7 linked regions of the Homo sapiens genome follow. The protein of the gene in region 2 purifies or fractionates together with the protein of the main gene of each other region. This does not show direct contact. Each region holds a gene or a part of one and is shown on either strand. Other genes may lie near its edges.

Region 1 (4,504 bases), on a different chromosome or scaffold from region 2:
CAGGAGGCACCGCTGCCCTGGAAGTCTCCGCTTCTCTGGGAGCTTCTGCCACTTTGGGAGCCCCTGCCATTGCAGGGGCTTCTGCAGCCCCAAGGGCCTCTGTCACCCCGGGAGGTGGTGCTATTGCAGAAGCCATTGCAGCCCCAACTACTGATTCGGCCTTAGGCCCAACCCCGGCTCCATCTGCCTCTTGGGCCTGACTGCCTGCCCCACTCTGAGCCTCAGCGCTGGATGCAGCTGGGGCCACTGCCTCAGCTCCAACTGTGTCCAGAGCAGAGGCTTCATCCTGGGCCCTGTCCTCTGCTTCAGCACGGACTGGGGTTGGGGGACTGAATCCTGACCCAAGGTCGATTGTGAATCCGGCTCTTAGCCCAGCTCTAGCCCTGGCTCCAGTCCCAGCCACAGCCCGGTTTTTGGGCTTGGCCATTCTCTTCTTGGTCTGGTCTCTCCCCCTGGTGTATTTGTAGACACAGTACCAGGCACCAGCCCCTATCACTATCCCCGCCGCTACACAGCCAGCATCCCGAACGCGGCTCATGGTGCAGCTGGGGTTATTCACTGATCCAGGGCGTGGAACTGGATTGCTTAAGGTTAAGGGATGCCTGCTCGTCCGGGTGAGGCTCTTCAGTTTAGGCTTACAAGTTCTGCTGAGGCTTAGGCAGGGCCTAGGGGTAAAGGATAAAAATGAGGCTTAGGGCTCTGGCTCACTTCGTGTCTAACCAGTTCTACTTAGAGAAGAGTTTAGGGACACAATGCTTCGTTGGCGGGCTAGCACCCAGACACAGGTGTCAAGGCCTGTGTTTGCTGATTCACAGACCTAGTTTAACGTTTTCTACATCTTCAACCTTAGCCTGCTCTGCCAATGCCTACAACTTCCAGCATCTAAATGGAAGGACGAGAGGCAGTACAGACATGGGTAAAGCTGGTAGAGAGCTGGAAAAACAGTAGAGATCTCAGATTCTGCTATGATGCCCCACCCCCTACCCCCAAGGCCCCTACATGGTGCTCATGCACATACCAACCTGGGATCAAGAGCAGTTTGCTTTTTTCCACTGTAGCTGCAGTTGCACAGAGCCCAAAAGGAAGACAGACCTGAGGACAGATCAGAAAGGGCGTTTTTGAGCCATTGGTGGACGAATTCTGGTTCTTTTCCTGATTTGGGCCCCTGTGGGTCAAAGGTTTTCCCCCCTCAGGGATCCTCTTTTCCTCTTCAGCCTCTCCTCCCCCAAATATTAACTAAGGCAGATGCCACGCCCCTTTCTCTGCACCAAAAAGAAAGGGCCTGGGGCAAGGGTGTCTTTGAAATTAAAAGAGAGAAGATGCAGGAGGAGCCTCTGGTCCCATACTCTACTCTTGTCTCTGCCACACCCACACCAGGGGGCCCCAGACAATTCCAACCCCAGCACTGACCCTCCAAAGATTCAAGGCTGTTTCTCCTTACTTCAGTTCAGTTAGAGCTTCATCCTAAGGACAGACTGAAGAGCAGAAATATAGACTGTCGACGTTAGACAATGAAAGCCTGGTGGATGGATCAGCATCCAGGACAAGGGTCTCAGTAACTGCCTTTTCGTGTTTGCACATCAGAATGTCAAATGATTCTACCTCTCAATTCCTTCAACTCTTCTCACCCCACCCCTCCCACCTCAATCCTCCTCCTGCGCAGGCTCCCCAGGCACTCAATCCCTCCTTCCGCTTTGCCCCGCCCCCGTCCGCCATTTCTCCAGGACACACCGCCACACCCCTTCTCCTGCAACGAAGCGGGAGGGGAGCGGGGCGAGGGTGCAGCAAAAGCTGGATGGGACGCGGTATGGGGGACTCCTGCCAAACAATTCAGTGTTCCCCTCCCAGGATCACCCATCTTTCGCTCCCCAGCCCCTAGGCCTAGCGTTAGCCTGCAGAAGAGGGGCCTCAACGTCTGCCTTTTCGGGTTCAGGGTCGAGATTTTCCACGATTTCTCTGCTATGGGCTCTACCTCCCACTTCCCACAAATCCCCCCAACAACCGCCATTTCTCCCGCCTGCATACCCGAATTCCTTTTCCAGGACTGAAAAGACGGGGGGTGAACGGCTGTGTGGGCCGGAGGTGTCTGGAAAGCAGTCTGCGAGTTAACAAGGCGGTTTAATACCAGATTCTCTCAGGGTCCGCCCCCTCCCCCCCACCTCCCGTGAAGCCCAGACAGCGCCAAACCCGCCACCTCTCCAACAGCAGCTGGTACACCCATTTCCCAGCACTCCCAAATCACAGAGGGTCGGCTGGGGGATGGGAGGGTGCCGGGGCGGTGGTGGGGAAAGTCAGGGTGGGAGTGTGCCGCCCAGATTGTTACCAAATTGCATGCCCCACCCCCGCCTCCTGGTTACCCTTTCCCAACCTCCCTGCTGGCCTTCTATGCGCTGCCACGTTTATTTCTCTTCCCTCCTCCTCTCAAAACAGGACGGAATGTGGGGTGCGGGCCTGAATATTATAAACAAAACCAAAAAACACTGGCTGGAAAGGAAGTAAGCGGATTCTTCGTAAAGTCTATCAAAAGTCTTTTCGTTTCCCCCTCCCCCTTTCCCCACCGCCCACCAAAATGAGCCGCGTTTGAGCACCTCAGGTCTGGAAAGCCGGCCAGGAGTGGGGGAGACCGAGGCACCCGCGGCCTCCGACTCCCGCATCCCTAGATTACCCCTATTCAGGGGTCCCAGACTGTGCCCACCCTCACACCCACCTGCCCGAATCTGGGGGAATTTTCTCCTCCTCCTCCTCGCCTGGGTTAAACGCACGGCAGCGAGCTGCGCAATAGAGTTGGTACCCAGAGGAGGACGGAGAACGACGGTCAGGGCTTTAAGTACCTTTGCCCACGTCAGCTCCTGGTCACGTGAGGGCTGCATCGCCAGTAAGCTTGGGTCCCCAATTTCCACTCCCACCAAGAGTACGAGCCCCCTCCTTTACTTCCATTCCCATCTCACCCCACCACATCAGGTCCTGTCACTCATTTTTTTGTCTTTGTAGTCCTGGAGGCCTAAAGTAGCCCCTTCTCCCTGCTTTCACAATTTGCCTTTCTCTGGTTACCTGGGAGGGGCTGCATCTTCTCGGAGGGCTACTGAAAATTTTTACTTTTTTGTTGGGGAATTGTTTCATCCTTTCCTGGGCTACTGGACACTCTTCCATCTCTCCACCTCTAGTTCCTCAGCCCCTAGTCCCCAGGATTTTCCTTGCAGTTGACTCCCTGTTCCAGTATAGTTAAGGGGCAGAGTGTCAGAAAGGAGACAAGGAGTGGGAGTGGGGTCTGTACTTCTCAAATACTTCTGTTTTGTTTTCAAAACTATCATCATGCTTTATTTTTATAGTAAGAAAATTCAGTAAAACAAGAATTCAATGTGGGAAGTAGCAACAAAAAAAGGGTGGGCATGTTTTGTAAAGAAAAAAGGTTTCCTGCGTCCATTGGAAAGCACCATTAATTTTGGTTAATTTTTACCGAATAGAACATGAATTCTTTTGGTCACATAGGAAATAGTTTTTAAAATATGCTAAGGTATTTGAACATCTAAAATGGAATATTTCTCAATAAGATAAGCATATTTCCATGTGATCTGTAAATTGATCCACAGAGAGATGTTCAGTTCTTCAATCTTGTTTATTTTGGACAAATAATACGCTACTTTTTTCTCCTTCTGGGACAGCTTTTAAGTTGCATAAATAAATGATCCTGTCTTGTCCTGTTAGAGAAACACATTTATTTAATATTCCCAAACCATTGCTGACTGCTGTGTGTGAACCTCCTGTAATTTGATGGCTGTAACCATGACAGTTTTAAACACCTGTCTTCGGATTAGGTTCCAGTTAATGATTCAACTCTGGGCAAAAGGAAGAGCTGTGAGGCCAAGGAAACTGAGTGTGGTGGGTGCAGAGTGGTCAAATCCTCCCTGCCCTGTCAGGAGGAGGAGGGAGATGCTGTCTCTCTACTCCCTCCCATATGCCAGAGCCGCTCATCTCCTGCATTCAGGTACCTGGCTCAGTTGCTCACACCCAAAATATATCCAGACAAGTGACCAAGATGCAGACCTGGTTAAATGTCTTTGGCTCTTTCCGTCCCTCCCCCAAGTTCCCAGAGGAAACCCATTGATGCATAGAAAGGATTGCTGTTCTTACCTGACCCTGCAGCTGACGATTTGTGAAACCTGTGATTTCACAAAAAGGTTTTTGTGATCACACAAAAAGTGATTGTTGGGGGAAGTTCCCAGGCCTGACTGCTGTCTGTCCTTATTCGTGGTTACCAGTGAACCTTGCTCCAAACACTGTCTGCTACTACCACTTGGCCTAAGAGATGCATCCTCCTGGGCCTCTCACTTCTGCCTCCTTAGCTCCAGGGGACCTAGGAAGAGTCTAGCCTTCCTGCAAGGTTACTGCCTGCCAGTACACATCCACCTTGGTGCCCTCTCAACCAAATGTATGCCCAGGGAACAATCCCCACTGATGAACCCAGAGTAGGTGTTCTCACCCGGTCAACTCTGTAGACCACCTG
Region 2 (3,747 bases):
GTAAACACTAGCCCTCTCACCCAGAGAGTAAAGTATCAGTTTCACCATCTTTGATGACAAGTTCAGCAAATAGACACTATTGACCTTATTCACATCATTTGTGGCTGAGAGCTCTCCTGCATATCTAGCCTCCAATGCTGGGAGAATGCCGTTGTCATGGCTGTGAAGACAGCCAGGAGGCGCCCGATTGGTCTATTTACTTTGCTGGCAGAGCTCACAGGCAAACAAGCACCCAGCAGCTTCTGAAGTCAGGCCAAATTCTGCAGGGATTTGAGGCTGGGTTACTGAGCAGCCTCTTTACTTCTGCTGTCCTGTTTGCCTGAACTGTGGGCTCCTTGGGACAGGCACTCAGCCTTGTCCACCACTGTATGGCCAGCCCTGGGCACAGTGCTGGGCCCAGCCTGATGCCCACCAAGTGCTTGCCAAGTGAGGAGGTGCTGAGGCCAGGAGGAAGGACACTTTATCTTCCTCTTTCTCAAGGGTGATTGGGATGGATGTCACTGAAGCAGGAGGGATGAGAATGGGAATGGGAGGTGAATCCTGGCTCTAGCTGTCTCTACTCCTACACGCCCAGGGGACCCTGGCAAGTGGGTTTCTGGTAACCTCAGTTTCCTTGTTGATGGGAAGGTCTGTCCTGCCTGGCTGGGGGGAGGGTGAGAAGGTGCATGGCAGGTGTTGAGCTCAATATCTGCACTGAGAGTCAGTGCTGAACTGCTGAGGAGGGTGGTCAGGGGTGACTGTGGAGCCTTCCTGCTGTTTCAGGGCTCAAAGCTGTGCGCTGTCCTTATGGGTCCCTCAGGGGACTCCCGAGGCCAAAGTAATAACTCATGGGGATGGGGCAGAGAACTAGCAGGTGCTGAGACCTGCGATGTGTCACATACCCCCACTGACTCTCACCTGGCTGGCCCTCAGGCTGGGTAGGACACAGCCTATAAAGGTGAAGAGAATGAGACTTGGAGAAGTGATGGCACTGGCGAGGGCTACAGCTCACAGTGACAGACCTGGGATGCCTGCCCTGGTCTCTGTGATCTCCAAGCCCTTCTGCTCTGGACACATGATCAGGCTCTGTCTCCAGGGCCCCTCACCTGCCAGATCCTCACCCCCCTTTTAAACAGTTAATTTTACCCTTAAAAAAAGTACAGTTGCCTTTCAAATTATGGAAGTAGTGCAGACTTGTTGAGAAAAACACAGAAGGGTATGCAGGATCTTATGACACAGCCTCCTTAACCATGATCCTGCTCCTCAGAGTTAGCCCCTGAGTCCTTCGGTATAGACTCTTCCGGTGCCTTCTATGAAACATAAGGATTTTAAACAATGGGATCCCCAACTTGTCAGGAACTTATTTAATATATATATAAACCAGCCTTATCCTTTTCAATGACTCCAGAGTATTCCACCATATGGCTCTACCACAGTTTACATAACCAGTTCCCCACAGATGGGCACGTTCCTATTTTTGCTCTTATGAGCAGTCCTGCAGTAAATAAGCTGGCATGGGAATCTCTGAGCATGCTGAGCAAGTACTTACACAGGACACGTTCCTAGAAGTGGGAATGCAGGGTAAAAGAAATGCACACTTGGCCAGGTGTGGTGGCTCACACCTGAAATCCCAACACTTTGGGAGGCCGAGGCGGGAGGATCACCTGAGGAGTTCGTGACTAGCCTGGCCAACACAGTGGAACCCCATCTCTACTAAAAATACAAAAATTAGCCAGGCACGGTGGTGCACGCCTGTAATTCCAGCTACTTGGGAGGCTGAGGCAGGAGAATCGCTTGAGCCCGGGAGGCAGAGGTTTCAGTGAGTTGAGATCGTGTGCCACTGCACTCCAGCCTGAGCGACAGAGCCAGGCTCTGTCTCAAAAAAAAAAAAAAAGAATCACACATTAAGAAGTGTTGGCCCACACTACCCTTTCACCCCTGGTGGTGGGAGGACCAAGTCCTCCCCACCCATCTGACAGGTGAAATGGCATTGCAACTTAAGGTGCTTTCTTTGAGTTGGTTAGACTGAAAAACCTGTCGGGATTTCAGGCCATTCGTATTTGTCTTACTGTTACCTGTTCTGATTTTCCTGCTAGGTTGCTTGTCTTGTAGAATTTTTGGGAACTTTTCATACACTACAGCTTTAACACAAAGTGATTATGTCAAGTAACCCTCTCTCCTGTTTCAATGACTGAACAAGGAAGTCTATCTCCACTTCATCCACTTATTGATAAACAGAATCTATTAAACACCACCGCCTACATAGTACCATGTGACTGGTGAGGCAACCTCTGCCCTGGACGTTTCCCGCTGTGCCCTAAATCCCACAACGAAGCTGCCTGAGAGGTCACCGCCATGCCTGCCTCACCCTACCCCTGCTCCCAGGCACCTCACCTGGCCTGCACGGGAACAGTGATGCTATTTGGGAAACAGCCCTGGTCCCAAGAAGGGGTGTGGAGGAAACTCCAGGACAGAACACTGCTCTGCAGGGGACTTCCATCTGCCTGGGCTCAGATGTGGGGATGAGGTGGGCCACGGCAGGCGGCATAGCCACAAACCCTGTGGCCGTCTCTTCTCCTTGCATTCTCCCCTGAATCCTCATGACATCCCACACTCATTCTTAGTCCCCACTGTCTTCCCTTTGCTTTCTAACCCTCCCTACCTTCTTCAGATTTAGAACAGTATGTGCTACTGGCACTGAGTGAATTATCACTCCTGGTTAGCTGTTCCTCTCTTCTGAGACAGGCTGTGTCTCCAAAGCCATCCCAGTTACCAGCCAATAGACAGGAAGTTGCTTACTCGGGGAATGGCGGACACCTTCACTTTGGCCCTAGAATCACATTTGGCCTACTTTGGTCACTCCCAGGTGATCCTGGGTGAGATGAGAAGGACTGAATGATGGCTCTATACTCCCTCCACCCAACTCTATACACTGAAGAGGAAGAACTTCTGCAAAATTCTGGGACTTGCTTTGCAGGTTCAAGGTGGTGTGGCTCCAGGATTCAGACCCATCTTAGCTGCAGACCCAAACAGGAGCCTGCGCTACCTCCACAGCCTTCACCCTGCCTTAGCTTGGACACTAACTGCCTCCTCCTGCTCCATGCAGTCACAGGGGTCCAGAGCCCATTTCTGCGGGGTGGGCTTGCTCCTCTGCCTGAGTCACCGCCTGTGGCTAGGATCTCCTGCAGCTGAAAGCAGCAGCGAGTGCAGGGTGTCTACTCCCAGCAGTATATCCTTATGACCCTGAGTTCCCTCTAAGGGGAGGAGCGAGGATGAGCTGCATGTGCAGGCCTGCAGCACTTGGGTAAGGAGAGAAGTGGTGGGAGAAAGCAAGAAGCAGAGGGATCAGGCCAGGCGCGGTGGCTCCTGCTTGTAATCCCAGCACTTTGGGAGGCTGAGGTGGGTGGATTGCTTGAGCCCAGCGGTTCGAGACCAGCCTGGCCAACATGGTGAAACCCCATCTTTACTAAAAAAATACAAAAATTAGCCGGGCGTGGTGGTGCACGCCTATAATCCCAGCTACTCGGGAGGCTGAGGCAGGAGAATCACTTGAACCCAGGAGGCAGAGGTTGCAGTGAGCTGAGACTGTGCCACTGCACTCTAGTCTGGGCAACAGAAGGAGACTTTGTCTCAAAAACCACAAAAACAAAAAAGCAGGGGGAACTGCAGCAGGGAAAGCCAGGGGCTGCATGGATTCTGGGTGCTTTTGAAGGTAAACATAACATGATGATGATGAAGATGACAGAACAGTACAGGGTACTAGAGAAA
Region 3 (3,747 bases), on a different chromosome or scaffold from region 2:
CTGAGGTCGGCAGTTTCAGACCAGCCTGACCAACATGGAGAAACCCCATCTCTACTAAAAATACAAAATTAGCTGGGCATGGTGGGGTGTGCCTGTAGTCCTAGCTACTCAGAAGGCTGAGGCAGGAGAATTGTTTGAACCCGGGGGTGCGGAGGTTGCAGTGAACTGAGATTGTGCCATTGCACTCCAGCCTGGGCAACAAGAGCAAAACTCCATCTCCAAAAAAATATATATATATAATAATTATATATACATTTATATAAATATATATTTATATAAATACATATAATATGTATTATATTATGTATATATAATGTTATATAACATATTATATATTATATTATGTATATTATATGTTATATTATATAATATATTATATATATTATTATATATAATTATATATATAATAATATATATATGTTTCCATCAATAGGGGATTAGTAAAAAAAAAAAAAAAATTATACACGGTACATCCATGCAAGGAAATAATATGTGGTGGACCACTCTTTATTAACAATGAAAGAGGTCCACAAGTGACTGACCAATTAAAGAATAATATATTCAAATGATCTGTCCACTCTCAGCTCTTATCTGCAACTTATGCCTACAACTCTAGGTTTCAGGGACGGAATTGTGTCTAGAAACAGTCAACAACTAAGCTGGCCCCTCAGTGACAGGATTCTCGGTCCTTGCGCTAGGTTCTTAAAAATCGTTTTCAGTCTTATTTAAAATTTTCACAATATAATCATGGATTACTTCTGTTTCTTTTTTTCTTTTTTTTTTTTTTTTGTGATAGGGTCTCACTCTATCCCCCAGGCTGAAGTACAAGGGCTCCATCTCAGCTCACTGCAACCTCCGCCTCTCAGGTTCAAGCGATTCTCATGCCTCGGCCTCCTGAGTAGCTGGAATTACAGGTGTACGCCACCACGCCCAGGTAATTTTTGTATTTTTAGTAGACACAGGGTTTCACCATGTTGGCCAGGCTGGTTTTGAACCCCTGACCTCAAGTGATCCGCCCACCTCAGCCTCCCAAAGTACTGGGATTACAGGCATGGGTCACTGCACCCGGCCATGGATTACTTTTCTAAATGCAAGAAACAATGGAAAACGATCACTCAGTCAGCAAATATTAAGAAATTCCCTGAACAAACCAGTATTTTTCTATCCTGGAAATTTTCTTCTCATGCGCAGAGACCCACATAATACAAGAAACAGATCCAAGTGCCACCAGCCTGGACGTGATCACAGGCCACTTTGCTGTCCGCCTCCTGCCCTGGACTGGAGCATAGCAAGGGCAGGACCCTGGGTGTTGGTGTACTCTCCATCCCCAGCATGCAGCCCAGGACCCAGCACAGAGCAGGAATGTAAGGAAGGGAGGGCCAGGTTCTGAGAGAGGAAGAAATGCTCTGCGACATCTTACCTTTGTGATCAGGTCAGAGTGCCTGATGATGGCGCGGATGAAGAACCTATGGTCCGTCACTTCCACACCTTCCTTCACCTTGGCAGCACCCAGGTAAAGGTGCATCTTGTGGTTGGCACAGGGCACGGCGGTCAGATCGAAGTTACGCATCCGGTTAAGTTCCAGCTGGAAGGCCAGGGCAGGTTCCAAGTGACGGTAAATGCGATCTTCTGCAAACTGTAGGCGGACCAGAGAGAGAAGACAGACACATACACACACAGCGTGACGTTGGAGCTGCGTCCCTGCTTGGTCCACACCCTACTCTGCAGACCCCTGGTGTCCATGGGTTTGGCACTCAGGAATGCAGCATTCATGATGTTCCCTAATTGTAAGCTACCCCCAGGGCTCCAGATATTTGGGGTTTTGCTAAGATCTGAGGAGAGCTATGGGCATTGCAAGCCTGTTGTGCTGGGTGCAGCGCTGGCTCCTGGGGGAACCTAGCTAGTCCCTATCACCTGCCAGCGTGACCAGGCTGTTCTCCATCTGTCACAGCCTGTGGCAATTCTCATGAAGCCACTAACCCCTGGTTTCTTGGTGGAAATTGGTCCCCGAAAAGAAAGCAACTGACAGTACTGGAAACTAAACTGAAAAAAAAAATGAAGACATTAAGAAAAGGATGTGTCTTAGCTAGAAAAATAAAGCTTTGGATAAATTAAAATGCAAAATGCTGAATTTGGTGGGGTCTTGAATCAGTGCTGGGAATAAACCTACCTGTTCTACAACAGGGATCGGTAAACGTTTTCTTAAATGGCCAGAGAGTAAATGTTTTAGGCTGATGGATCATACGGGCTCTGTCACAACTACTCAATTCTGCTACTGTTAGAGTGAAAGCCAGAGTAGACAATGTGGAATCCAACGGGTGTGGCTGTGTTCCAATAAAACTTTATTCGTAAAAACAGGCAGCTGGTCTGCAAGTGAGTTTGCCAACCACTGTTCTAGACGAGCATAAGAAAAACAGTTTGGAAAAAATGTCTTACTGAGTACATCAGCAAGTACTGAAAATTATTCAAGCAAGACAGAAACCTGTAGTGAGGCTGAAAGGGCAAGATTCTCAGGTCTGAGTGCCATGCAGGGAACAGAGGGCTCTCAATGGAAATACAATCCCAGAGGAAGACTGCAGTCTACACAAAAGTTGCTACATTCTTGAATATGGGGATGCCTTAAGGACTGCAGACTATATTCTTCATGAATATCAAAGATGCCAGGGAGCTGGGAGGCACGGTGGCATGTGCCTATAGTCCCAGCTATTCGGGAGGCTGAAGCAAGAGAATCGCTTGAGCCATAAGTTCGAGTCCAGCCTGGGCAACATAGTGAGACCCCATCTCTTTTTTTTCCTTTTTTTTGAGACAGAGTCTCACTCTGTCACCCAGGCTAGAGTGCAGTGGAATCACCTTGGCTCACTGAAACCTCTATTTCCCAGGTTCAAGCAATCCTCCCACCTCAGCCTCCCAAGTAGCTGGGACCACAGGCTTGCATCACAATGCCAGGCTGATTTTTTAATTTTTTTGTAGAGACAGGGTCTCACTATATAACCCAGGCTGGTCTAGAACTCCTGAGCTCAAGCAAACCTCCTGCCTCAGCCTCCCAAAGTGCTAGGATTACGGGCTTGAGCCACCACACCCGGCCCCATCCCATCTCTTAAAAAATAAAACAAGATGCTAGAGAAGAGAAAACATCATTACTTTTGGCCATACCTCATCTCTTGCTCTGAATGTGAAAAACTTGGGAAATTCTTTCTGCAAAAAGAAATCCACACACAAGACAATTAAATCAAGCAAGACGCACTGAAATATGTACATCCTTATTTAGTGATTGTAAACGATTACATTCACTTCTAGAATGAATCATTTGGAAATCCTTCTCCTTTCTAATGATCTCTTTCACCCAAATCTACAAAATAAATATCAAATAAATGGCACACACCAAGGCTTGGAGAATGGGAAAGACTCATAGAGATGAACTGTGAACTAACCTCTTGGGCAATCAAGAATGTGATTCGTCGGAGTCCATAATCCACAAGGATATTTTTCTGCATTAAAAACCAAAGACACAATGGAATATTATTTGGCCGTAAAAGGAACTGAAGTATTGCTGCATGTTACCACACGGATGAACCTGTAAACATTATGCTAAGTGGAAGATGTCAATCATAAGAGACCTCCTGTGATCTGATTCCATTTATATGAAACGTCCAGAATAGGCAAATCTATATAGAGAGAAAGTAGATTAGTGGTTGCCTAGGGCTGTGGTGGGGAGAGGGTTTTTGGGTTGGGGACAGAGGGGAGTGA
Region 4 (3,747 bases), on a different chromosome or scaffold from region 2:
CCCTGGGGCCTGGAAAGGGAGGTGGGGCCCCGTGGGGGCTGCTGCACCACAGGCAAGAGAGCAAGAGACAGCAGAGGCCGGCCAGGTGGTGGCACAGCCGCTAGGGACCAGGCCGGCCTGTGGAGGTATTGGGATGGGGACCAGCGGACTTGCTGGCAGAGGGGCCTCAGGGCTGCAGGCTTCTTGGACTGAGCCACTGGGAGGACGGAGTTGACCTTCTTTGAGACAGAAAAAGTGTGCATCCCGGGGCTGCCTGTGAAAGCTCATCTCTAAAGTGTGTGTTGTTCTTCCAGCCACCCCTTTGCTGTGAAGTTGCTTGCGCTCTGTAAGAAAGAAATCAAGAATTCAAAAGATATCCAGAAGCTCCTGTCAGGCATCGCAGTGTGAGTTTCAAGTGCTGCTGGCCTTAGACGGAATGGCAGGGCGCAGCCTCCCTTGGCTGAGGGCAGGAGTCCACGGCTCCAGGCGGGAGAGGAGCAGTTAGTGTTACTCCTCAAGCTAACCTAAGATCGTGCATTCCAATGTTCAAAGCAGTCGCAATGGGAGGTGAGGCAGCCCAGGTGCTGGTGGAGGGAGTTCCCGCGGGAACAGGCGAGCTCTGCCTCTGCTGCCCTCGCGCTCTGCCCTGGCGGGAGGGGAGGCTCCGGAAAGGAGCTGCGTGGTCAGGGGCTGCCTCCCCGATTCTCCTGTGTGCCCTGGGGGTCGCTGTTGAGTGCCTTGCTCTGCGGCGCTCAGGTGGACACTGGGCAGGTGCGCCAGCCAGCGATAGGCACCTTGGCTGCTCTGTGGCTCCTTGAGGTGGGGGTCCTCATGGCAGGGCGAGCGGCCCTGCAGGAGATCCTCTGTGAGGCGTCCTCACTTCCCACAGTGACTTTCCAAGTGCGACACTCGTGTGTGTAGGCACAGTGCAGATGTACGCACACACACACCTCCGGCTTGGGGCCCCAGGCCCGCACTGTGCTCACGGATCTGCTCTGCCCAGGTCTCTGCATGGGCCTTTGGGTCCGGGGTTTGCTGGGGTTGGCCTGCGCGGGGTGGGGCTCACCTGGAGCCATGTGCTGCTCCCGGCAGGTTCTGCGAGATGGTGCAGTTCCCCGGCGACGTGAGGAGGCAGGCCCTCCTGCAGCTGTGTCTGCTCCTCTGCCACCGTTTCCCGCTGGTGAGTGCCTGCCCCTGCTCACGTGTGTTTGCCGTGTGGACACAAGCCCCTCAGTGACAAGAAGGCCTTCGCTGGCACTGTTGTGTTGGTGTGCTTTCCAGCCGAGCCCCTCTCGTTAACGCGCCTGGGTGACGACGCGTCACAGGCACGCGGCTGCCAAGGGGCTCTGGACGCCACTGTTCTGGCTTTAAGGACGGGCTGTCCGGCTGGCGTTTCTATGGACATACATTGAGGGGTGACCTGGCGGTGGGATCTGGCTCAGGAGCTTCCAGAAGGACCCAGGCTGAAGTGGTTCAGCCACACCTAGGGGCAGTGCCCTTCATCCCCAGCACTCCCCGGCTATTAGATTTCTAGGATTTCTTTTCTCCTGGCTGCAAAAAAAACCTCAGATGATACAAAGGTGACATTTTCCTAAAAGGCAAAAGTAACTTCATGTTGTATGGTGGTTCTCGAAGTGGGGTGCCGGACCCTCAGGCTTGGCACCTCTGGGGCTTCAGCAGTGCAGCTCTTGGGCCCTGTGCTGCCGACTCAGCACCTCCAGGGTGGGCCCGGGGCTCAGACCACCAGCGCAGTGAGACATGATGACCAGGGCACCACTCAAAAAGAGAGCAGGCGAGATTGCTTCCCTGATGAAAAGAGAGCAGGCGAGATTGCTTCCCTGATGAAAAGAGAGCAGGCGAGATTGCTTCCCTGGTGAAAAGAGAGCAGGTGAGATTGCTTCTCTGGTGAGGGAGCAGGTTGGTTAATAGATAGCGGGCGAGATTGCTTCTCTGGTGAGGTAGCAGGTTGGTTAATAGAGAGCAGGTGAGAGTGCTTCTCTGATGAAAAGAGAGCAGGCGAGATTGCTTCTCTGGTGAGGGAGCAGGTTGGTTAATAGCAGGCGAGATTGCTTCTCTGGTGAGGGAGCAGGTTAGTTAATAGAGAGCAGGCGAGATTGCTTCTCTGGTGAGGGAGCAGGTTGGTTAATAAAGCATTTAAACAAGAATGATGTCATCTTCACTGCTGGGATCCTGCAGCTAGCTGTGTGTCTGTGGAGGGAGGAGGTGGTTAATGGGCCTGGAAGGCACCTCCTCTTGGTTGCAGCCCTGCTGTGGCTGGGATGGGATGCAGGGTCAGCGTCCTCCTCCTGACGCCTTCCACTGACGGGGCTCCCTGGCCTGGGTCCTGTCGTCTCTCCGGGGTGGGGCGGTGGCGCTTCCCTCCGGCAAATGCACTGCATCCCTGTCCCAGATCCGGAAGACCACGGCCAGCCAGGTGTACGAGACATTGCTCACCTACAGTGACGTCGTGGGCGCGGATGTGCTGGACGAGGTGGTGACTGTGCTCAGTGACACTGCGTGGTGAGTGAAGGCCCTTCCTGCACGGCCACCTGGGCCTGGCACCGCCCCTCTTCCTGTCCCCACCGTGTCTACTCGTCTCTCCCAAAACCCTCTGATAGGAGGAGGAAAGAGGGTTCCCAGGTCTCCACATCCTCTGCTTAGGTTTTACAAGGCAGCCGTGCTGCTGTAGCCGAAACCTCTTCTCAACCGCCCTGTCCCCAAACAGTGTCAGGTGTCAGGAACACAGCAAAGCCATCCATCCCACCAGGGGAGCGGGCACCTGTACCACAAGGCTGTGTCTGGTGGCCTGTGGAGCAGAGGGCACTGAAGGCCTGGCAGGTGCTGCTGCCCCAGACCTCTCTAAAGTTCTCTTGGAATAGGCCGTGTGAGCACCTGTTGGAAATCAAGAGGCACAGGCGGAAATAAGAAAAGCTCTCCCCACGCCTCTGCTCTGATGTCCACCCCCTTCCTCAGGGCCATGAGGCCCTCAGGAGGCCATAGTGCCACTCTCCACGTTTACTTTGGCAGGCACAGTTTCTGCAACATGGGCTGGCTTCTTTACCATGGGTGGAGTAGAATGGCGGTTTTGAAAGATGTGTGTATTGAGTTGGGGGTGGGAGGGTCTGAATGAGAGCAGAGTGGGGAAAGTGCAGGCTCAGGTGTCCTGGGCCAACCGGTATGTTCCTGGGAACAGCAGTGATGGTGTCTTACACATATGGGCATGGGCACCCATGCTGGCTCACACACATGCTCACTTGCACGCGCGCACACACACACACACACACACACACTTCTAAAAGGGGAGCAGTCTCGTCACCCCGTGTTGGAGATCAGGACTGAAGCAACCAGAGGCTGTGTGGGTGTCCACATGGCATACCCGGGGTGGTGGAGTCCCAGGTGTCCTGCCTGTGGATGCTGCTCTGTTTTGAGTGCCGACTGTGAGGGCCTCCGTGCTGATCCCGGTGCGTTGCTACAGGTCTGTGGGGTCCACGCCCCTTGTTGAATCCAGCAAGGACGTAGGTGACGTTCCCTAGGTGTCTCCTCGGAACAGTGACCTTCCAACAGGGCTGGGTTCCCATAGAGCTCACGCACCAGGCAGCCGCTGTGGCCTCGGAGGACAGAGGTGGCCTCTCCAGGGCTTCCGCGAGGTTTTCTGGTTTGGGGAGGAGTGTGTGTCTGCTCCTAAACAAACACGTGGTCCCAGGAGAGGAACCGGGAGCAGCTGGGCTGTCTTCTCAACATGCGTTGAGAGAATGGCCATCTTAACTA
Region 5 (3,747 bases), on a different chromosome or scaffold from region 2:
TAGTTCTAGATAATTGGGAGGCTGAGGTGGAAGGATCGCTTGAGTCCAGGAGATCAAGACTGCAGTGAGTGGTGATTGCACCACTACACTTCAGCCTGGGCAATAGAATGAGACTCTGTCTCTAAAAATAAAATGGGCACAATAGTATCTATCTCATGGTTTTATTGTGAGGATTTCCTGGGCTAACTAATGTGATTGGTGCACAATAAGTGCTCGATAAGTGTTAGCTGTATATTTATCATTGTCGTTACGAGTGATACTATGTGAGTTTATGGTGAATCATGGGTATGCCCTTTATCAGATTGAGTTTTGCTATACTCGACAATTTGCCAGATCTTCCAGAATGCAATTAAGTTGTTAGGGTGAACTCTACATATCTATACATATTACTTCTTTATTTCCTTTGCTTTTTAATTCTTAGCACTGATGCATCTGAGATTAAGGAAGTGTTTTTCAAGATTGGCATTTTGGGCCAGATAATTACAATTTTTTTTTTTTTTTTAAACACAGTCACACTCTGTTGTTCAGGCTGGAGTGCAGTGGCACGATCCTGGCTCACTGCAGCCTCCACCTTTTGGGTTCAAGTGGTTCTCCTGCCTCAGCCTCCCGAGTAGCTGTGATTATGGGTATGCACCACCATGCCCCAGCTAATTTTTGTATTTTTAGTAGAGACGGGGTTTCACCATGTTGGCCAGGCTGGTCTTGAGCTGCTGACCTCAAATGATCCGCCTGCCTCGGCCTCCCAAAGTGCTGGGATTACAGGTGTGAGCCACCATGCCCAGCCTTGGGCCAGAACATTTTTTTTTTATTTGAATGTATAGCAATGCTAATGTTGCCCTGTGCATTGCAGAATGTTTGCCACTATACTGAGCCTTATCTCTAGATTCCACTAGCATCTCCTCAGTTTTGACAACCAAAAATATCTCTAGATATTTCCAGATTTCCCCCAGGGGCCTAAATTCACCCCTGATTGGGAACCACTGGCTCACTATCTTGCATTATAGATACAAACATTCACAGTTGTCCCCAGCACAGCTCATGATGAAGACAAAGCAGTTAAAAAACTGAGGTGCAATATATTCAGTTTGGTACACTGCAAATCTTAGTTTTGACACCTATACCCATTCCATACCTCACAAGACCTAATGATTTAATTTTTCATTTTAGCTCTTTTCATATTCTGTGTATTAATGGTACTACTTGTGAGTCTCTAAATCAACCCTGAACTTCATGTTATTTTTCGATTTTTTAAATCATTTTGTCTTTATGTCCGGTAACAATGTGTTTTAGAAATGAATACTTAATTTGGGTTTGTTTGGTTAGAAGTTCCCCAGTTAATATTAAGTCCATCAAGACTGCAGCCTTAAATTGAAATGTTTTTTTGGTTTGATTCTACAGTTGTAAAAAACCACACTTTTTATGGTTTCACATTTTATAGACTTTGAGTATAAAATAATATGTAAACAGTGAGTATTAGTGATCTTGCCTAAAATTGTTCTTTGAATTTGTTTTAATGAGGTGTCTTAATAGGCCTGGTAATATGACTGTATATTGTAAAATTATTTAATAATTCTGACAGTGTGAAGTTTTCAGTTTCGTAAAGCTCTCAACATTCCATATTGTTAATAAGCAGATGTCGGTTTGTTTCTAAGTGTATTTGTAAGTTTAAGAGAGGTATTTTTTGTGGTTCACAAATTAGATTCACATTCGTAATTACTAACTTTGTGCTTTTCTCTGTTTTGTAGGCATATGGTTGATGATATGCTAAGTGCAGATGATGTCAGTTGTAGTAGCTCCCAGGTTAGTGCAAAATCAGAAAAAAATATGGCTGATTTTGATGGTGAAGAATCTGGATGTGAAGAGGAGCTAGTTCAGATTAATTCACATGCGGAACTGACATCTCACCTCCAACAACATCTTCCCAATTTAGCTTCCATTTACCATGAACATCTTAGTCAAGGTAAGACTCTACAGTAAGTAAAATATATTACCTTCTTCACAACAGGAATAATTTATCTTACTTTGTTGAAAGGACTCAATAGTTAAGGTTATGGTACTTAAATGTTTTTGTCAAAATAACTTACATATGGTAGTTTTTTTTTTTCCCCCAAGGGAATTAAATTATTATAAATAGTCCATCATGAATATAAATAAGTCCTGCAGTTCTATTGAGATATTCAGCGGGGAAAGAAAATATATAGCAATAATATGTAATAATTAAAGCTCTATATTTTAGAAAATATATGGTTGTATTAGAATTTATACTCAGAAATCCTAGGACCTAAAAGTATAGGAAATCACAAAAGATAAAATTGTATGATTCCATTTATATGATATGTCTAGAATAGGCAAATCTGCAGGCAGAAGGTTAGTGGTTGCTTGGGGTTAGGGAAGGGTAGGAGGGAATAAGGAGGGGCGAGTGTGAGAAATGATTGTTCAAGTCTAAATCACTCTTAAAGTAATAGGACATGACCAGACTTGAAAGAATGGAGGATGGAGGAAGGTAAAGAGTAGTAGGGAATTAATGAGTAAAGCAAGAAAAAATAAGAAAGTGAAAAACAGTTTTAGAATTGGCAGTTTAAAGGCCTTAAACCTCTTGTTTGGTTGGTATCATCAACATATGCTGGCCTAGTAAATGGGTTTTGGATAGCCAGTACATTATAAGTAAACCGGATGGATTACGTTTATGCAAAGAGGCCATAAACACACTTAGAAACACAACTTGTGGACCTTGGCAACAATTTACTGATTTGTATGTGTTTTTTGTACATGATCTGTCTAGGTTAAGTTACTTTGACTTATTTTATTGTTGTGCTGTTGTGGTTGTTGAGAAAGGAATAGGTTAGATTGAGGTCATCTGACTGAATGTGATGCCATATTTGTAAATTGTTACCATTCTTTTCTCAAATTTTCCTTTAATCAATATTTTACCTATTTTTTACTGCGTGGAGTTAGAAATTGAACAAAATGGTTTTCTTTTCACAACCCATTGTAGACAGAATAAAATGATAGTATATGTTAATGCTTTCCAAATCTACCTTGTTTTACAATGTTTTTAGTACTAGAAGACCTCCTCCAACAGAGTAAGACAGTCAGTTTAAAAATGGGCAAAAGTGTTGATCAGATACTACATAAAAGATGATACATAGAAATGGTCAATAAGGGCTGGGCATGGTGGCTCACACCTATAATCCCAGCACTTTGGAAGGCTGAGGTGGGCAGATCACTTGAGGTCAGGAGTTCGAGACTAGTCTAGCCAACGTGGTGAAACCCCATCCCTACTAAAAATACAAAAAAAAAAAATAAATTAGCTGCGTATGGTGGTGCTCACCTGTAGTCCCAGCTACTTGGGAGGCTGAAGCAGGAGAATCGCTTGAACCCAGGCTGTGGAGGTTGCAGTGAGCCGAGATCACGCCACTGCACTCCAGCCTGGATGACAGAGTGAGACTCCGTCTTAAAAAAAAAAAAAAAAAAAAAAGGAAACGGCCAGTAAGTACACTCTCAGTGTCTCTTGTCATCTAGTAAATATAAGTTAAAACCACAGTGAGGCACTACTACATACCTATTGAAATGAGTAAAATTAAGGACTGATACTATCAAGGATTGACATTAGAATGTGGAGCTGGAACTGTCATAACTTGCTGTTGAACATAAAATATAATCACTTTGGAGAACTGTGTGTTAGTCCATTATTGTGTTGCTATAAAGAAATCGCCTGGTGCGGTGGCTCACATCTGTAATCCCAGA
Region 6 (3,747 bases), on a different chromosome or scaffold from region 2:
CCCTTACTACAGTGGGGCTCCTGACATCCCAGCCCCTGACCTTGACCCTTGACCCTTGACCCTGGGTGCTGCAATTCAGACACACTTTGCCCCCAGGGGGATCTCATTAACTTTGAGAAGAGGAGGAAGGTGAGTGGAGGCTACAGTGGGTGTGGTGGTGCCTGAGGGTGGGGGTGGGGCAGGGGTAGGGTCTTAGAGGCTCGTCCTCCAGGAGTGGGAGATCCTGGCCCGCATCCAGCAGCTGCAGAGGCGCTGTCAGAGCTACACCCTGAGCCCCCACCCGCCCATCCTGGCTGCCCTGCATGCCCAGAACCAGCTCACCGAGGAGCAGAGGTGACCACCCTGTAGCCTGTCCCAGCCCCACCCCAGCTGAGCCTGGGTCACCAACTGGATTCCACCCACTCCATACACACCTCCAGCTCCTCCCAAGACCCCCTCTTGAGCCCTGATCCCCCACTACAACCTGTGACCTTGCAGTATCTCCAGTCGAATCAAATAGACTGGGCCTGGTGGTTTACTCGTGTAATCCCAGCACTTGGGAGGCCAAGGTGGGTGGATCACTTGAGCCCAGGATTTCGAGACCAGCCTGGGCAACATGGCGAAACCCCATATCTACAAAAAAATACAAAAATTAGCTGAACGTGGCTGGGCACGGTGGCTCACACCTGTAATCCCAGCACTTTGGGAGGCCGAGGCGGGTGAATCACATGAGGTAAGGAGTTTGAGACCAGCCTGGCTAACAGAGTGAAACCCCGTCTCTACTAAAAATACAAAAAAAAAATTAGCCAGGTGTAGTGGCAGGCGCCTGTAGTCCCAGCTACTTGGGAGGCTGAGGCAGGAGAATGGCGTGAACCCGGGAGGCAGAGCTTGCAGGGAGCCGAGATGGTGCCACTGCACTCCAGCCTGGGCAACAGAGCGAGACTCCGTCTCAAAAAAAAAAAAAAAAAATTAGCTGAATGTGGTGTTGAGTGCCGTTGGTCCCAACTACTTGGGAGGCTGAGGTGGGAGGATTGCTGGAGCCTGGGAGGCAGAGGTTGGAGTGAGCCAAAATCACGCCACTGCAGTTCCAGTCTAGGTGACAGAGTGAGACCCTGTCTCAAAAAAAAAAAAAAAAAAATAGTCACAATTGACCTCTGACCTCAATTTCAACCCCATCTGATTTTCTGACCTCAACTTTAGCATTCAGCTGGCCATTCAACTCAACTGTCCCATCTGTTGACTTCCCCATCTTTGGTCCTATCTGACCCATGACCTTATTCATGACCCCTCATCTGACTCTCTGACCCCAACCCTTGACCCTCAGTTCTGAGTAACTGACTCCAACTTTTATGTTTGACTGTCCAGCTTGACTATGACAACTGTGTCCTTTCTTTCTATATAACTGTGACCCTAACCATTGACCCCAATGGTGACCTGACCCCAGTCTGACCCTGACTTTATTTTATTTATTTATTTATTTATTTATTTATTTATTTATTTATTTATTTTTGAGACAGAGTCTGGCTCTGTTTCCCAGGCTGGAGTGCAGTGGAGTGATCTCGGCTCACTGTAGCCCCCGCCTCCCAGGTTCAAGCAATTCTACTGCCTCAGCCTCCCCGGTAGCCGCAATTACAGGCGCGAGCTACCACACCTGGCTAATTTTTTTTGTATTTTTAGTAGAGACGGGGTTTCACTATATTGGCCAGGCTGGTTTCGAACTCTTGACCCGAAGCAATCCTCTCGCCTCAGCCTCCCAAAGTGCTAGGATTACAGGCGTGAGCCACTGCACCCAGTCCTGACCCTGACTTTAATCCTGACCCAATTTGATTCCTTAGTGCCACCCTGTGAATCTCTTTGTGACCTCCTGACCAGCCATCCTGTCCCATCTCTGATAAGACCTTGATGCTCAATGACCCTCATTTACCACCCTGACCCTGGCATGTGGGGTGCCACCTCTGGCTGCTCCCCCTTACACCCCAAACCCACCTCCCAACTGATTCCAACTCTTATCTCTCCATCCCCTGTATTTCCTGCCCCCACCACCTCATCCACATATTGACCCCTCAGCTACCGGCTCTCCCGGGTCATTGAGCCACCAGCTGCCTCCTGCCCCAGCTCCCCACGCATCCGACGGCGGATCAGCCTCACCAAGCGTCTCAGTGCGTGAGTCTCGGGGTGTGTGTAGGGGCGGTGATGTGGGCAGATATCAGCAAGGGCTGCTCCTGCCTTAGCCTCATCCCCTGTCCCCATCCTTAGGAAGCTTGCCCGAGAGAAAAGCTCATCACCTAGTGGGAGTCCCGGGGACCCCTCATCCCCCACCTCCAGGTGAGCATTCTGCTTGGTGATGGGACTGGGGATCATGGGATCAGGAGTCAGCACAGCCACCCCACCTCAGCCTCTGCATCTCCCCCAGTGTGTCCCCAGGGTCACCCCCCTCAAGTCCTAGAAGCAGAGATGCTCCTGCTGGCAGTCCCCCGGCCTCTCCAGGGCCCCAGGGCCCCAGCACCAAGGTACCAAGACGGCTTGTGTGTGCATGCGGGCCTGCGGGCACCCAGGCTCTGTGTGTGTGCACGTGTGTGTGCATGCACATGTGTACACACAGGATTGTGGGGCCAGGAGTGTATACAGGAGGCACACTGAGCGCCCGGGGTATCCATCCAGGGGATTGCATGCATCTGCACGGCCCTGTTTGGGTGATCACTCATAAATCCGACTCGTGCTCAGATTTGGACCTGTGTAACTGCTTGCCCATGGGTCATCTAGGGTGCAATCACATCACACCCCTTTTTATTTGAAACAGGGTCTTCTTGCTCTGTCACCCAGGCTGAAGTGCAGCGGTGCAATCTCAGCTCACCGCAACTTCCACCCCTCCCCCAGGCTCAAGCAATCCTTCCACCTCAGCCTCCCAAGTAGCTAGGACCACAGGTGTGCACCACCATGCCCTGCTATTTTTTTTATTTAGTAGAGATGAGGTTTCGCCATGTTGCCCAGGTGGGTTTCGAACTCCTGAGCTCAAACAATGCACTCACCTCGGCCTCCCAAAGTGCTGGGATTACAGGTGTGAGCCACCGCACCCAGCCTACACTTTTTTGAGGACATGTATGTCCCTAAGAATCTGCATACCATGGCAGACACGGTGGCTATTGCCTGTGATCCCGGCACTTTGGGAAGCCAAAGTGGGAGGATTGCTTGAGGCCGGGAGTTCAAGACCAGCCTGGGCAACATAGTGAGACCCTATTTCTATTAAAAGTCAAAAAAATTAGCTGGGTGTAGTCCCAGCTACTCAGCAGGCTGAGGTGGAAGGATCGCTTGAGTTTGAGGCTGCAGTGAGCTACGATCATGCCACGGCACTCTAGCCTGCATGATAGAGCGAGATCCTGTTTATGAAGAAAAAGAGACTGGGCACGGTGGCTCACGCCTGTAATCCCAGCACTCTGGGAGGCCGAGGTGGGCGGATCACGAGGTCAAGAGATCGAGACCATCCTGGCCAACGTGGTGAAACCCTGTCTCTACTGAAAATAGAAAAATTAGCTGGGTATGGTCGCGCACACCTGTAGTCCCAGCTACTTGGGAGGCTGAGGCAGGAGAATCACTTGAACCCAGGAGACGGAGGTTGCAGTGAGCTGAGATGGTGCCACTGCACTCCATCCAGCCTGGTGACAGAGCGAGGCTCCCTCTAAAAGAAAAACAAAAAAAGAAAAGGAAATGAAGGAAATGAAGGCTGGGCATGGTAGCTCATGCCTGTAATCCCAGCACTTTGGGAGGCCG
Region 7 (4,178 bases), on a different chromosome or scaffold from region 2:
TGACAGGTAATAACTCATTTAATCCTCTCGGTGACTCCAAGAGATCATTATTATTCTCACCTCCATTTAACAAAGAAGGAAACTGAGGCACAGCTCATAAGAGGCAGAACCAGGACTCAGACCTGGGCAGTTGGGCTACAGAGTTTACGCATTTAAAATAAACTGCATTTGGTGGACACAGTGGCTCACACCTGTAATCCCAGCACTTTGGGAGACCAAGGCAGGTGGATCACTTGAGCTCAGGAGTTCGAGACCAGCCTGGCTAACATGGTGAAACCCCCATCTCTACAAAAGATAGCCAGGTGTGGTGGTTCATGCCTGTAGTCATAGCTACTTGGGAGGCTAAGATGAGAGGATCGCCTGAGCCCAGGAGGCAGAGGTTGCAGTGAGCCAAAATTGTGCCACTGCCCTCCAGCCTGGGCGACAGAGTGAGACCTTGTCTTAAAATAAAATAGGCTAGGCACGGTGGCTCTCGCCTGTAATCCCAGCACTTTGGGAGACCAAGGCGGGCGGATCACGAAGTCAAGAGATCGACACCATCCTGGCCAACATAGTGAAACCCTGTCTCTACTAAAAATACCAAAATTAGCTGGGCGTGGTGGCACGAGCCTGTAGTCCCAGCTACTCGGGAGGCTGAGGCAGGAGAATCGCTTGAATCCGGGAGGCGGAGGTTGCAGTGAGCTGAGATCGCGCCACTGCACTCCAGCCTGGTAACAGAAGTGAGACTTCGTCTCAAAAATAAATAAATAAATAAATAAAACAAAATAAAACAGAGAGCATTGCTTCAGAGCATGGGGAGCCCCCACCCTACCCTTCAGAAACTAAAATCTGAACCAAAGCTCTGAGACACATCATGTCTTCTTATGGATGCCTGGAAAAGTCACGGGTATGTGGTCACTATGGCCTAGGCAGGAGTGCAAGTTGGATACGGCTGCTCCACAGAGGCTTGGGGGTTGGAGATGATGGAGGCGAGGAGTGTCGCCTGTTTAGGAGGAGGGGTTTGGGGGAGTCCCACAAAGGCTGGAGAATTATAGGTGAAGCTGTCAGAGAATAGATGGATCTATAGGCAACTGACAAGGCCTGGGGGGTCCAGCAGAGGGAACACTGCGTGCATGGGGCGCTGGGGGGTTAGGGCTGGTTTAGAAGGTCCATGGGTTGGGGGGCCACATGGGTGTTGAGTTCTATGGAGGTCTCAGGGTCTATAATGTGTTGAGCAGGTGACTCAGGGTCTCCAAGAACTTCTGGAGCCTTAAAGAACCTAAAAGAGTCGTTGGAATGTGTAACTCCCCAGATTCTATTTGACACACAGTGGGTCTAAAGGATCCAGGGATCATACAGGATCATGATTCTATAGGGACAGCTGCCAGTCTGTGGAACCTCTGGAGACTTAAAAGGGACTCAGAATTCCATAGGGGTGCGTGGTGGGTCCCGAGACCCATGGTCTATAGAGCCCCGGATTCTAGGGGATGCCACTGGTCTATGAGGACCCCACGTCTATAAGAAGCCAGTTCTCCATGGGGGGCTGGCAGGAACCTGGAGGGTCTGTAAGACTTTATACGGAATGAGGCGGGTCTACACGAGACCCAAATCTTACATGGACGTGGCGGGTCTTACGCGGGCCCTAAATCCTACGGGGGACGTGGCAGTGTGCACGGCCAGGGATGCCGGGGAGGACGTGCAGAGTCAGGGTCTGACACCCGCTGGGGACCGCGTCCCTCACCTGCTCCAGGTGGAAAGAGAAGCCATCGCCGCCACCGGAACCGAAGCCTCCGCGCTCGGGCTCCGCACTCTCCCCACCCCTGCCGCCGCGTCGCTCTAGCCGCCCTGAGTCCACCTTTGCGCCCAGCTCCACTCCTCCTGCCAGCCGCTCTAGCCCGGCTCCTGCCGGGCTCCGGCCCCGACGACTCTACTCCTCCCGCCGGCCGCTCTAGCGCTGTACTGCGCCACGCAGGCCAGATAGGGCCGCTCTGGCCTGTCTTGGAGGGCCAGCGTTTCCGTATCTCGACTGCCCCCGTCACTCCCCGGGCCCCGCCCCGCGCCCGGAGGTGCAGATGGGTCCAACTCCTCCCGAGTTCGATCGGAGATCTCCTAGTCACCCCAGCGCTGAGCACTCGGACGGCGGACTGGGGCTCCCCGTCCTATTAGTCTCCCCACTTAGGGGACCCGCTGAATTTCCAATCCTCGTACATCAATCCCCTCCGTCTCCCACCCCCAGCCCCTTCCTTTGGAACCGGAAAAGCAATAGTCTTGAGTTCCAGCACAACTTTCCCTCTGACATGCAGTGTAATCTGCAAAAAGTAATGACTTCTCTGTAGACCTCAGTCTTCCCATCCGTACAATGGGAGAAGGCCTCCAGCTCTCTCCCTACACCTGTCTCTCACGGTATAATTAATGACCTAGAAAAGAGCTTTCCGAAAACTCTTTCAAATGCACTCTGCAACTTTCAGCTTCACAGCGACCCTCGTCGTTGTTGTTATTGTTGTTTTTCATTTTTAGGTGGCCCTAAAGCATGCGGGGGTTGGAGGATGGCGCTTTGCGGAAAGCACGTGCGAGTTCAAATCCCAACTCCACACTTTCTCACGATGTGCGTTCCCTGGGACGAGTCGGTTTGGCTCCCCGGGCCTCGGTTTCCCCACCCGTACAATGGTAGTGATCGTCCGTTCTCCACTGAGCAGGTGGGAGGCCTTGGCCCCGGCCTCGCACCGTTCGTCCCCACCTATGGGGCACTCGTCAAGTGTGAGTTCTCCCCTCTTTGCTCCCTTTGACAGATGGGAAAACTGAGGCCCAAGGAGGGGCGGCCGCTGGTTCCGTGGGGTCCGAAGGGGGCCCCTCCGCTGCCGGCAGCGCCCCAGCCCCTCCCTCCTCCTCCCCACTTCCCCCAACAGCCGAGGGGAGGAGGCCGGGCGGGGCCGGGGACCGAGTACCTGGTGTCCGCGCGGAGGTGACCGGCGGGGCGCCCGAGGTCGGGCTCGGCGATCCCGGGCCCTGGGTCCCGGCTCCCGCTTCCTGGCTCTGGCGGGGCAGGAAGTCGGGGCGTTTTTCCGGAGGCCCCCGCCCCGCCGCCCCTCCCCGCTTCCTGCCCGCGCCCCGCGCCCGCCCGGCACCTCCGCTTCCTTCCCCTTCTCGCCGCTTGCCCGCCCCTCCTTTCCCCGCTGCGCCCGGGTCCCTGCGGGCACCGGCCCCCGCCCCGGCCGCGCCCGAGCTCTCCCCGGCTTTGTCCATCGGTCCGTCCGCCGGGCGCGGGCTCCGCGGGACTCGCATCTCCCGGCTGGGGTCACCTCCCCGGAGGTGCTGGGGGGCAAGCCCTGCTCCCCGTGCGCCCTAGACCGAGCCACGACCTCCCCGGCTTTCCGCGTCTGTGGTTCTCATGGTCTTGCGCCCTTCCTTCGCCTCTGTGGGTGTGCTCCCGCCTGCGTCTGCATCCCCTTCTCTGTCCCTCTGTCTTTCTCTACTGGGGTCTTTCCCTCCTTGGCCTCCACCTCTCCTCTCTGTCCCTCCATCACTTTCTCCCCGAAAGCCCTTCTCTACCCTCTCCAGCTCTCTCTGTATCTTTCTGCATCTCCGTCTCAGTCTCTGTCATTTCCCCAGCTGTTGCTGTGCCTGGGCCTCTTCGTGCCCATTTTCGGTTGCCCCTTCTCCCTTCTGTCTCTTCCTTTCCTTCTCGCTCTCTCTCTGTCCCTTTCTCTCCACGTCCCTGTCTCTCTCCCGGATTCCCAGGGTCTCATCATCTCTTCCTTCCCTTGCTCGTCCCCTTCATGATCCCTGGGTCTCAGCCTCTCTCCTCTCCCTTTCTCAGGAAATCCGTGTCTCTGTGCCTCTCTGTCATTGCCCCGGGATCTCCCTGCTATCCCCAGGTTAGGACCACAGACCCTCCAAAATGCCCCTTCTGTAAGTCAACGCATCGGGAAAAGGCTGCAGTCTGAATTCTGTACTAGCCCCAATCCACAAGATAGTCCCTGTGTTTCCAAGGCTTAAATACGCATAAAGTGGCTCATGCCTGTAATCCCAGCACTTTGGGAGGCCGAAGCATGGTGGATCACTTGAGGTCAGGAGTTCGAGACCAGCCCGGCCAACATGGCGAAACCCTGTCTCTACTAAAACAAAAATTAGCTGGGTGTGGTAGCACATGCCTGTCATCCCAGCTACTCGGGAGCCTGAGGTACAAGAATCGCTTGAGG

The links.
Region 1: the proteins of PPARD (region 2) and ARMCX2 purify together in Homo sapiens (co-immunoprecipitation; one large-scale study listed by IntAct). This does not show direct contact.
Region 3: the proteins of PPARD (region 2) and ACACB purify together in Homo sapiens (affinity purification with mass spectrometry; one large-scale study listed by BioGRID and IntAct). This does not show direct contact.
Region 4: the proteins of PPARD (region 2) and TBCD purify together in Homo sapiens (affinity purification with mass spectrometry; one large-scale study listed by BioGRID and IntAct). This does not show direct contact.
Region 5: the proteins of PPARD (region 2) and USP34 purify together in Homo sapiens (affinity purification with mass spectrometry; one large-scale study listed by BioGRID and IntAct). This does not show direct contact.
Region 6: the proteins of PPARD (region 2) and RGL3 purify together in Homo sapiens (affinity purification with mass spectrometry; one large-scale study listed by BioGRID and IntAct). This does not show direct contact.
Region 7: the proteins of PPARD (region 2) and ARHGEF1 purify together in Homo sapiens (affinity purification with mass spectrometry; one large-scale study listed by BioGRID and IntAct). This does not show direct contact.

Annotation. Positions count from the first base shown.
Region 1 is NC_000023.11:101,657,051-101,661,554, forward strand, and holds the start of ARMCX2 (armadillo repeat-containing X-linked protein 2), read right to left. Parts: upstream 2,801-4,504; 5' UTR 2,708-2,800; intron 2,485-2,707; exon of another isoform or gene 2,452-2,484; 5' UTR 2,369-2,451; exon of another isoform or gene 2,358-2,368; intron 2,099-2,357; 5' UTR 2,026-2,098; intron 1,564-2,025; exon of another isoform or gene 1,476-1,563; 5' UTR 1,411-1,475; intron 1,093-1,410; 5' UTR 1,023-1,092; intron 669-1,022; exon of another isoform or gene 666-668; 5' UTR 539-665; coding exon 1-538. UniProt on the Homo sapiens protein: May regulate the dynamics and distribution of mitochondria in neural cells.
Region 2 is NC_000006.12:35,411,811-35,415,557, reverse strand, and holds part of PPARD (peroxisome proliferator-activated receptor delta), read right to left. Parts: intron 1-3,747. UniProt on the Homo sapiens protein: Ligand-activated transcription factor key mediator of energy metabolism in adipose tissues. Receptor that binds peroxisome proliferators such as hypolipidemic drugs and fatty acids.
Region 3 is NC_000012.12:109,235,054-109,238,800, reverse strand, and holds part of ACACB (acetyl-CoA carboxylase 2), read right to left. Parts: intron 3,489-3,747; coding exon 3,432-3,488; intron 3,196-3,431; coding exon 3,154-3,195; intron 1,637-3,153; coding exon 1,421-1,636; intron 1-1,420. UniProt on the Homo sapiens protein: Mitochondrial enzyme that catalyzes the carboxylation of acetyl-CoA to malonyl-CoA and plays a central role in fatty acid metabolism.
Region 4 is NC_000017.11:82,936,978-82,940,724, forward strand, and holds part of TBCD (tubulin-specific chaperone D), read left to right. Parts: intron 1-293; coding exon 294-383; intron 384-1,071; coding exon 1,072-1,159; intron 1,160-2,389; coding exon 2,390-2,499; intron 2,500-3,747.
Region 5 is NC_000002.12:61,342,028-61,345,774, reverse strand, and holds part of USP34 (ubiquitin carboxyl-terminal hydrolase 34), read left to right. Parts: intron 1-1,745; coding exon 1,746-1,960; intron 1,961-3,747. UniProt on the Homo sapiens protein: Ubiquitin hydrolase that can remove conjugated ubiquitin from AXIN1 and AXIN2, thereby acting as a regulator of Wnt signaling pathway.
Region 6 is NC_000019.10:11,398,597-11,402,343, reverse strand, and holds part of RGL3 (ral guanine nucleotide dissociation stimulator-like 3), read left to right. Parts: intron 1-96; coding exon 97-129; intron 130-211; coding exon 212-333; intron 334-2,046; coding exon 2,047-2,142; intron 2,143-2,235; coding exon 2,236-2,304; intron 2,305-2,374; coding exon of another isoform or gene 2,375-2,392; coding exon 2,393-2,489; intron 2,490-3,747.
Region 7 is NC_000019.10:41,882,036-41,886,213, reverse strand, and holds the start of ARHGEF1 (rho guanine nucleotide exchange factor 1), read right to left. Parts: upstream 3,031-4,178; 5' UTR 2,925-3,030; exon of another isoform or gene 1,747-2,924; coding exon of another isoform or gene 1,721-1,746; intron 1-1,720. UniProt on the Homo sapiens protein: Seems to play a role in the regulation of RhoA GTPase by guanine nucleotide-binding alpha-12 (GNA12) and alpha-13 (GNA13) subunits. Acts as a GTPase-activating protein (GAP) for GNA12 and GNA13, and as guanine nucleotide exchange factor (GEF) for RhoA GTPase.